3 linked regions of the Homo sapiens genome follow. The protein of the gene in region 2 purifies or fractionates together with the protein of the main gene of each other region. This does not show direct contact. Each region holds a gene or a part of one and is shown on either strand. Other genes may lie near its edges.

The links.
Region 1: the proteins of KIF16B (region 2) and CPNE7 purify together in Homo sapiens (affinity purification with mass spectrometry; one large-scale study listed by BioGRID and IntAct). This does not show direct contact.
Region 3: the proteins of KIF16B (region 2) and PTPRN purify together in Homo sapiens (affinity purification with mass spectrometry; one large-scale study listed by BioGRID and IntAct). This does not show direct contact.

Annotation. Positions count from the first base shown.
Region 1 is NC_000016.10:89,592,619-89,595,270, reverse strand, and holds part of CPNE7 (copine-7), read right to left. Parts: exon of another isoform or gene 1,307-2,652; intron 1-1,306. UniProt on the Homo sapiens protein: Calcium-dependent phospholipid-binding protein that may play a role in calcium-mediated intracellular processes.
Region 2 is NC_000020.11:16,274,001-16,276,580, forward strand, and holds part of KIF16B (kinesin-like protein KIF16B), read right to left. Parts: intron 1-2,580. UniProt on the Homo sapiens protein: Plus end-directed microtubule-dependent motor protein involved in endosome transport and receptor recycling and degradation.
Region 3 is NC_000002.12:219,295,757-219,299,414, forward strand, and holds part of PTPRN (receptor-type tyrosine-protein phosphatase-like N isoform 1 precursor), read right to left. Parts: intron 3,629-3,658; coding exon 3,549-3,628; intron 3,356-3,548; coding exon 3,291-3,355; intron 2,348-3,290; coding exon 2,129-2,347; intron 1,678-2,128; coding exon 1,477-1,677; intron 1,377-1,476; coding exon 1,229-1,376; intron 1,067-1,228; coding exon 993-1,066; intron 761-992; coding exon 683-760; intron 590-682; coding exon 470-589; intron 1-469. UniProt on the Homo sapiens protein: Plays a role in vesicle-mediated secretory processes. Required for normal accumulation of secretory vesicles in hippocampus, pituitary and pancreatic islets.

The sequences.
Region 1 (2,652 bases), on a different chromosome or scaffold from region 2:
TGCGTCAGAGCTTCCTAGAACCGCCTTCAGAGTGTGATGCCTACATCACAAACATCACGAACAACAGTGGGTCAGGAGCCCCCTCCGTGGCGGGCACTCTGGGCCTCCTGTGCCCAGCTCAGGAAATCTCCACGAGTCTCACGGAGGGCTGTGGAGGGGGTGCTACGAAGTCTACATTTTACTGATGAGCTCACAGTGCCTGGATGGGAGGTCTGAGGCCAGAGGAGAAATCTGCGATCCCAGGAGCCAGACCTGCAGCCCACACACCCTGCTCCAGTCTCTCCAGGGTGCCCGCTGTGCTGCCACAAGACTGAGTGTTGGCCGGACGCGGTGGTTCACGCCTGTAATCTCAGCACTTTGGGAGGCCGAGGCGGGCGGATCACCTGAGGTCAGGAGTTCGAGACCAGCCTGGCCAAAATGGTGAAACCCCATCTCTACTAAAAATACAAAAACTAGCTGGGCGTGGTGGTGGGCGCCTGTAATCCCAGCTATTCGGGAGGCTGAGGCATGAGAATCGCTTGAACTTGGGAGGCAGAGGGTGCAGTGAGCTGAGATCGCGCCATTGCACTTCAGCCTGGCGATAGAGTGAGACTGTCTCCAAAAAAAAAAAAAAAAAAAAAAAAAAAAAGGCAGAATGGAACTTCAAATAAAATCAACTTCCATTGTTTAAAAAAAACCCCACTCAATAATCTTGCCCAAACTGTGGACAACGGGAAACATAAAGAGAAGCAGGGCTCGCCTGAGCAGCAGAGCGGGAGCCCACAGCAGCCTCCCCTGGGCTGGCCTTGACTGAGCCCGTCCCACTGAGGGCAGATGTGTCCTGGAAACGAACAGGGGCCCCAGGACCCCACTCAGAGTCGCCTTCTCCAAGAGGCTCTCTTTTTGTGCCCTCCCCATCTCCCCCTCTCTGAGCCCCACACCTGTGGGAAGAATTACCTGTTTGCAAGGCAGTCTCTGGTCCAGGCCTACAAGCACCCACGGCTGTGCCCAGCCTGGCTCTCGGCCTCCAGATAAACAGCCCAGCCTCAGAAAGCCCCCCACCCCCTCCCAACCCCAGATGAGGCCCCCACCCCCCTCTGCCAACTGTGCGAGCACCAGGCACCAAAACCCACCGTGGGGCCCCACTAGGGCGGGAGCTTCGTGTCCAGGAGAGGGACCGAGGGCTCAGCTGATCATGTCTGAGTCCTCGTTTCAACCCAATTCTAACCACAGAAAACCATGTCACGGGTAAGACAACAGGAAACACAAACACCAGACGGATGTGCAATGCCAGGAGTGGTGGTTAGGTGTGATCAGGTGTCGTGGCTGCTTAAAAAGAGGCTTATCTTTATTAGACGCTGATACTGACATTTACAGATGAAACCGTCTGAGACCCGCTTCCCAGCCACACAGGAACATAACAGCTGAACGCAATCCTCGACTCCGGACTGGCTCCTGGGCCAGGAACAATACTGCTTTGAAAGTTATGATTGTGCCAATGAATGAAATTGGAATATAGTCTATGTATTAGATAAAAGGATTGTATCTAAATTCAATTTCCTGAAATCTGTATTTGTGCTATGGTTATACAAGAGAATATCTTTGATCTTAGGAAATATACACTGAAATAGTAAGAGGTAGGCCGGGCGCGGTGGCTCACGCCTGTAATCCCAGCACTTTGGGAGGCCGAGGTGGGCGGATCACGAGGTCAGGAGATCGAGACCATCCTGGCTAACACAGTGAAACCCCGTCTCTACTAAAAATACAAAAAATTAGCCGGGCGTGGTGGCGGGCGCCTGTAGTCCCAGCTATTTGGGAGGCTGAGGCAGGAGAATGGCGTGAACCCGGGAGGCGGAGCTTGCAGTGAACCAAGATCGCGCCACTGCACTCCAGCCTGGGTGAAGAGCGAGACTCCATCTCAAAAAAAAAAAAATATTAAGAGGTAAAACCGTGATGTTGCAACGTGCTCTCGGACGGTTCACAAATGTGTGTGTGCAGTGCCAAGTTTTTTAAAAAGCATCAAAGTCTTTATCACGATACTATCTGTATAAATTAAAAATAGATGCAAACAGATATAGGGTTCCCATTTGGCTTGAAGATGTAAGTAGACGGGTGATGTTTGATCATCATGAATGTACCTCGTGCCTCTGAACTGGATACAATAAAATGGTTACAGGCCAGGTGCGGCGGCTCACACCTGTAATCCCATCCCAGCACTTTGGGAGGCTGAGGCAGGCAGATCACTTGAGGTCAGGAGTTTGAGACCAGCCTGGCCAAGACAGTGAAACCCCATCTCTACAAAAATATAAAAATTAGCCGGGTATGGTGGCGGGCGCCTGTACTCCCAGCTACTCAGGAGGCTGAGTCAGGAGAATGGCGTGAACCCGGGAGGCGGAGCTTGCAGTGAGCCGAGATCACGTCACTGCACTCCAGCCTGGGTGACAAGAGTAAAACTCCATCTCAAAAAAAAAAAAAAAAAAAGAAAAGAAAAAAATGGTTACAATGGTAAATTTTAAACTGTGCATATTTTATCACAATAAAAAAAATTTGGGCTGGGCGCGGTGGCTCACTCCTGTAATCCCAGCACTTTGGGAGGCCGAGGCGGGTGGATCACAAGGTCAGGAGTTTAAGACCAGCCTGGCCAAGACTGTGAAACCCCGTCTCTACTAAAAA
Region 2 (2,580 bases):
GTCACTAGTTAATCTCTTATTTAAAAAAGTCATTTCCTCCCCGCTCCCAGTTACTCATTAAATAGAAAGATGATTAAAAAAAAAAAACAAAAAAAAAAGGCCGGCCATCTGTACAAGGTTAAATGTGCTGCTTACTGGTATTTTAAAATTGCACAGTCAGTATCTGTTTTGAATCCTTCTTATAAAATAAAGGGAAAGCAATACTGAGGACAAGAGGGTCAGTTCCAAGTACTGATATTTACAGATCTTTTTGCATGTCCTATAATCATCAACAAAAAGGAATCCTTACTACAATTACTTGCTCCAGACCCCTGCTGCATGTTTGTTGCAACATTATCTGCCGTTTTTGGCACTGAGAAAGCAAAGCATATGTGAGACTAGGCTCTGGGAACTGGGGATAAAATCAGATGTGGGAGCTGGAGGGATGTGTTCAAGGAAAAGAGGGCACACAAGAATAGTTAATATATTTTAGGCCAGGCAAATCTCATCTGTAACAGAAAATGGGCTGGAGGGAAGGGGTTAGACCCAAACCTTTATTATTGTCTCAGTGTGCTTAAAAAACCCAAACAACCCTGGCACAGTCTTAGGAATTACACATAATAATTCTGGACTCTGAGTAACAACAAAAAATTTGTGAAAGCAACATGGCCTAAGCCTGGAGCAGTAGTTCCCAACAAGAGGCAGTTCTGCCCCATAGAGTGTTCAGCAGTGTTTGGTGGCAGTTTTGAGTGTCACATAGGGGTGCACAGGCAGTGCACCTGGTGGATGCTGGCCAGGGATGCCAAAGCACAGGACAAAGAATTATCTGGCCCAAATGTCGACGATGCCACAGTTGAGAAGAGAAAGTAGAATTTAGCTACCTCTATGAATTGCCAACCTGAAATTTCCTTCTGAAAGAAGACATTCTACTCAACGAGAATTTGTTAATTCTCCTTCAAAATATTAATGAGGACTACTAACAACAACACTTGTAAAATAACTTAGTTTCTAAAAATCTTCTAACATCCAATGTTTTACACTTAATGGAAGTAAAACTGGTGCATGATAAATTGTACTTTTTTTTTTTTTTTTGAGACGGAGTCTTGCTCTGTCTCCCAGGCTGCAGTGCAGTGGCGCGATCTCAGCTCACCACAACCTCTGTCTCCTGGGTTCAAGCAATTCTCCTGCCTCAGCCTCCTGAGTAGCTGGGACTACAGGCATGTGCCACCATGCCCAGCTAATTTTTTTGTATTTTTAGTAGAGACGGGGTTTCACCATGTTGGCCAGGCTGGTCTCAAATGCCTGACCTCAAATGATCCACCCCCCTTGGCCTCCCAAAGTATTGGGATTACAGGTGTGAGCCACTGCGCCCGGCCAGATAAACTGTACATTCTTTAAATGTATAACTTCATGAGTGCTGACCCATGTGAAACCACCATTAAATCAAGATAAATATTTGCATCCCCTTCAAAAGTTTCCTAAGGCACCTAACTTTATGTTATCCTTACACTTGGCCTGGAATCACATCTTCTTCTGGTATTACCCATTTCCTGGTAAGGAAGCTATTGCCAGGAGAGGTGAGCAAGGCTAGTAATCTAGAGAGAAGACTTGAAAGCAAGTATTCTCAACTCAAGATGTTTTTTCTTGTTCCATATCCCTAACTTACTGGTCTCATGGTACCCTCTCAAGAAACGATCCTGAAATTGAAATTAGGTATTGGTAAGAAGTTATGAAAATCAACTGCTGAAAAGTGAAGATCTTAATCTTAGTAATTATTTTTATCAGAGGGGCAAAGAGAGACCTGACTTCCACTTTTCTGCGGGAAGGGACCCTGAGAATATCAACTTTAAAGGGACTTGAATTGCATCAAACAGGGTCACCAGTATATATCGTAGACTACACTCAACCAGCCAATGCTCGCGGTGCAATGCATGTGCACAACTGATTGTTCTGGGAAGATCAAGGGTGAGATGATTTGGAAAACGGGAGATGCAGAGCTTGCTGACTTGTGCATGGAGCCACTGCTCTTTCACAGTTTAATGCATGATAGAGCAAGGCTCGCTGCACAGGCCTCATCTCAGGTAGCTCCTGTGGGCTCCGGCTTCAGGTCTCCCACAGGCTGCATTAACAGGCAGGCTGATGTTTACAGCAAAGCTGACTTCAAGATGAACTCTGACAGACTGGAAGGCAATTTAAATCTGGGAGCAGATGTTATATCAGCATTTGTCATAATTAGTACACAAAGTAGGGTCCCTATAAAGGGCCAATAAAGCCTAAAGGGTATAATAAGAAGAGAAGTAAAAGTTAAAAATATAAATGAAAGGAAAAGAGGAAGTATTTGAGACACCTCCCTTCAAGAGCACCACCATAAGAAGAGAACAATACAACTGTCAGGTAATGTCTTTTTCTTTAAATAAACTCATTAGTGTTGTTTGACAAAAACTCCAGATAGAATGATCTGATTTGACTAATTCTAAACATTACAGAAGAGTTTTCTCTTCGCAAAACAAATTTCTGCTTAAGGAGAATTAGGCAGCTTTCGCCTCCTTTACATAGCCTGCTTCCTTGGCGCAAAGAAATGATTTGATTAGGAAGCGTTCT
Region 3 (3,658 bases), on a different chromosome or scaffold from region 2:
AACGGGTGGTATGTCTTTCTTTGCTTTGGCCACCAGGAAACTCAGAGCTAAATTAGGTTCAATTAACGTAGGTCTTAATCTCAGTCTTTGGGTATCCTTATCTTCCCTGTCTAATATACACTTAGCTGTTAGCTTCTTACCTCGGTTTTGGTGGTTTTATAGTTTGATCTCTGTGCCTTTATCATAAGTCTCTATGAACGCTTTTTGACTCTAGACAGGACACACACACACACACACACACACACACATGTATGTTCTGTAAACAGGACACACACATGTATATATGTGAATATATGGGTATGCATATATGTGTTTATATATATTCATATATGTATGAATCATGAGCAGGGCCAATAAAAGCCTTTTTAAAAAGACTGTTGAGTGCTCATTTGGTGAAGAAAACGTTACGAAAAGGCCATCATCTACTCTTCCCACATCCATTGTCCCCTTGCTGTGGGGCCCTGCTGACCTCATATACGTGGTAGAGGGAGGCACCCTCATCTGGCCAGTAGCGGTCACACTGCTTGACACCATCCTCCACCAGCGGGGTCAGCATGACGATGACGGTGCAGCCGCTCTCCCACACCATCTAGGGACAGAGACCCAGTTGAGCTCCACTCTAACCTCCCTGGGACCTCGTGGCCACAAGGACCCCAGCGAAGCCCTCCCTTTAAGAGCCCACCTGCCAGAAGTCTGCGATGGTATGGGACAGCGGGCCCTGCGTGGCTATGTAGGCTGGCATCCGAGGGTCATGCTCAATCTGGAGGCAGGGAAGATACACCATGAGCCAGTGTGGGAAATGCCACTATGGACAGGCGTGGTCAGAGCAAGTGGGTCAGGGTCTGAGAAGGCTGGCAGTTCCCCCTTGCTAGGATATCAGGCCCCACCACTCCAGGGGGTTGGTGGGGTGGCAGGTGACCACGGGGAAATGGAGTGCATAGGGCCAGGATAATGATGGGGCAGAGGTGGGGGCTGGAGTCAGGGCCACTCACAATGGGGCTGGCGTTGATGTAATCGCTCCGAGAAGGGCTGCTCTCCACCTTCAGTTTTATGCGGGCATGGTCATCTGCACAGACCCGACACCCCACCCCAGATGGCCCTCTGGTCATTGGCATCGCGGGACCTCTGCCACTCAGCCTGAGCCAGAAGCCCAACCCCTTACCCCAAGCCCTCCAGACCTCGCAGCAGAGAGAGGGCTGGGCCAGGTGGGCCAGCAGGGTTCACTCACAGGGCAGGAAGTCAGGATGCCGGTTCTTTTTGATGTTGCCCTCCCCCTGCGCGGTGGCACAGGTGTTTGGCTCTGCTTGGTAGGCACAGAGGGCCTGCCACTCCTTGGCAAGGCGGTCCCGGTTCCGCAGGTGATCCTCCATGTATGCCTGTGGGGGCACCACGGTCTGGCTCTGGCCCACACAGCCAGCCTGGCCTCTCTCACCATCCCATTCCTTCACCCACTCTGGGCCCAGGCCCTGTCCTGACCAGAATCATGTGTCCCGTGGAGATGTCCATGTTGGCTTGGGCCGGCTCCTCGCACCAGGACGGGGTGCTGCTGTGGGAGCTGGGGCTGGCCTGGGCTGCGTCGCTGAACTGGGAGGACACACTGCTCACCCGTGAAGGCTCCGGTGGACCCTCTGCCCGGTTGAACAAGGACTTCGTGGCCATGTGCTGGCGGCACAGGTCCTGTGGAGGAAGAATCAGGTGAGGTCCAAGAGTCCCCTGAAACTTTTCAACAGGGCCCTGGGTTCAACTCTGGGCTCCTAGGCTTGCCCTTGACTGATTTTCAGTGGAACTCAGCTCCTCTGGGGTATGGTCTTCTGCCTGGCCCTGATCCTTTCCAGGGCTGTTTTGCTTGGGTGGTGCTTATGTCAACCTCAGACATGACAGAGTGGAATCCCAGAGCCCCAGAAGCACAGCACCAAGAAGAACCTTAGGCACTGTATGCTCCCAATTCCCATGCGTTCATAAAGGCCCCTACCATACTCCCTCCCACTGGGGCTTCTCCAGCCTCCACTGGACCTTCCCAGGGATGAGGGCTCACTCCCCATTCAGTTCCGACCCTTAGTCCACGCAAGACCCAGACTCCCAGGCCCCTTGCATTTCCTTTGCTCAATCAGCTTCTGGGGCTGCACACCTGGTACTCAAAGGTAGTGTCACCATGGGCCCCCTCAGGCCCCAGGGCTGCCAGGCGCTCCTTGTCTTGCTGCCGCGCATGCTGCCGCACACACAGAGCCACAGCCAGAGCCACCAGCAGCCCAGCCACACCTGCCAGGGCCACCAGAGTGAGCAGCACTGAGCGCATGGGTGAGGTGCTGTGCGCAGTTTGGGGAAGGACTGCAGCTGCCTCCTCCCTCTGTGGGAACAAGGCTAGAATCAAGGGAGGCAGTGGCATAGGGAGGTTTCAGAGCTGCTCCTCACCCCGGTCCCATGCCACACCCCCTGTTAGGACATCTCCTGGGGCAAAGCTGGGAGATTAGGGGTATGGTGGTACAGCCAGATGGGCTCAGATTCTCCTTCTCAATCCCCATCGGATCAACTCAACCACAGTGCAGTGCCAGAGGCCCCCACCAGGAGTGTTTGCATTTAAAAACGGACAGAGAACCCTAGGAATTGAATTGTAGAACGTGAGGCATCAGTGTTGGATGCAGAAGACAAAGGTATTTTGAGTATAGGCCGGGCGTGGTGGCTCACACCTGTAATCTCAGCACTTTGGGGGGCCAAAGGTTGGCGGATCACCTGAGATCGGGAGTTCGAGACCAGCCTGGCCAACATGGTGAAACCCCATCTCTACTAAAAATACAAAAAAAAATTTAGCCGGGTGTGGTGGCAGGCACCTGTAATCCCAGCTACTTGGGAGGCTGAGGCAGGAGAATCGCTTGAACCTGGCAGGTGGAGGTTGCAGTGAGCCGAGATCGAGCCACTGCACTCCAGCCTGGACAGCAAGAGTGAAACTCTGTCTCAGACAAACAAACAAAACATATTTTGAGTATAATGTCCTTTCTGTGCAAGGTGTTCCCTTGGAATTTGGAGACTGCGCTCCAGCAGACTAAGGGCGGCTCAACTAGTTCTCAGGCCTTTTTACTACAGAGGGCTGGTCCTGCAGGGAGGGGACACCTACGCCATCTGCTGGTGAGAAAGAGAACTGCGGGGAGGGGCTGCTTGGGCGAAGGCCGCCTCCAGCCAGCCGTGCCTACGGACACGTTTCGGCTCCAGTTCTCCCCTCTGGTTTGCCTCCAGCTCTTGCGGACAACATCAGCCCTCTGGGGACTTGGACTGATTCTCCAGTTAGCGCATACCTGTCCCACTCCTGTCTGCAAGATTTGGAGCCCTGTCTGTGCTTCCAGTTCAGACTTCACCAGCCCTGCAGGGAGGACAAAGGTCAGGCTTGCTCCAGCCCCATGTGGTCTCCATCCTCTGTCTTGCTCTGCCAAGCAGCAGGCAGGGCCCATGTGGGCTGGGAACATTTCAAGGGGGCATCAGCAACAGGCCTGGATATATCCTCTTAGGAGTGGGGCTGGGGCCAAGCCTGGGATTGAGGTCGCAGAGATATTTACCTGCTTGTTGGGTCACATCAGCCAAAGACAGGTTCTGCTCATTGTGCCGGATGCGGAAGGTGAGGGCTGGTCCCACCACACTGCCAGATAGGAGCTATGTTACTGCCTTC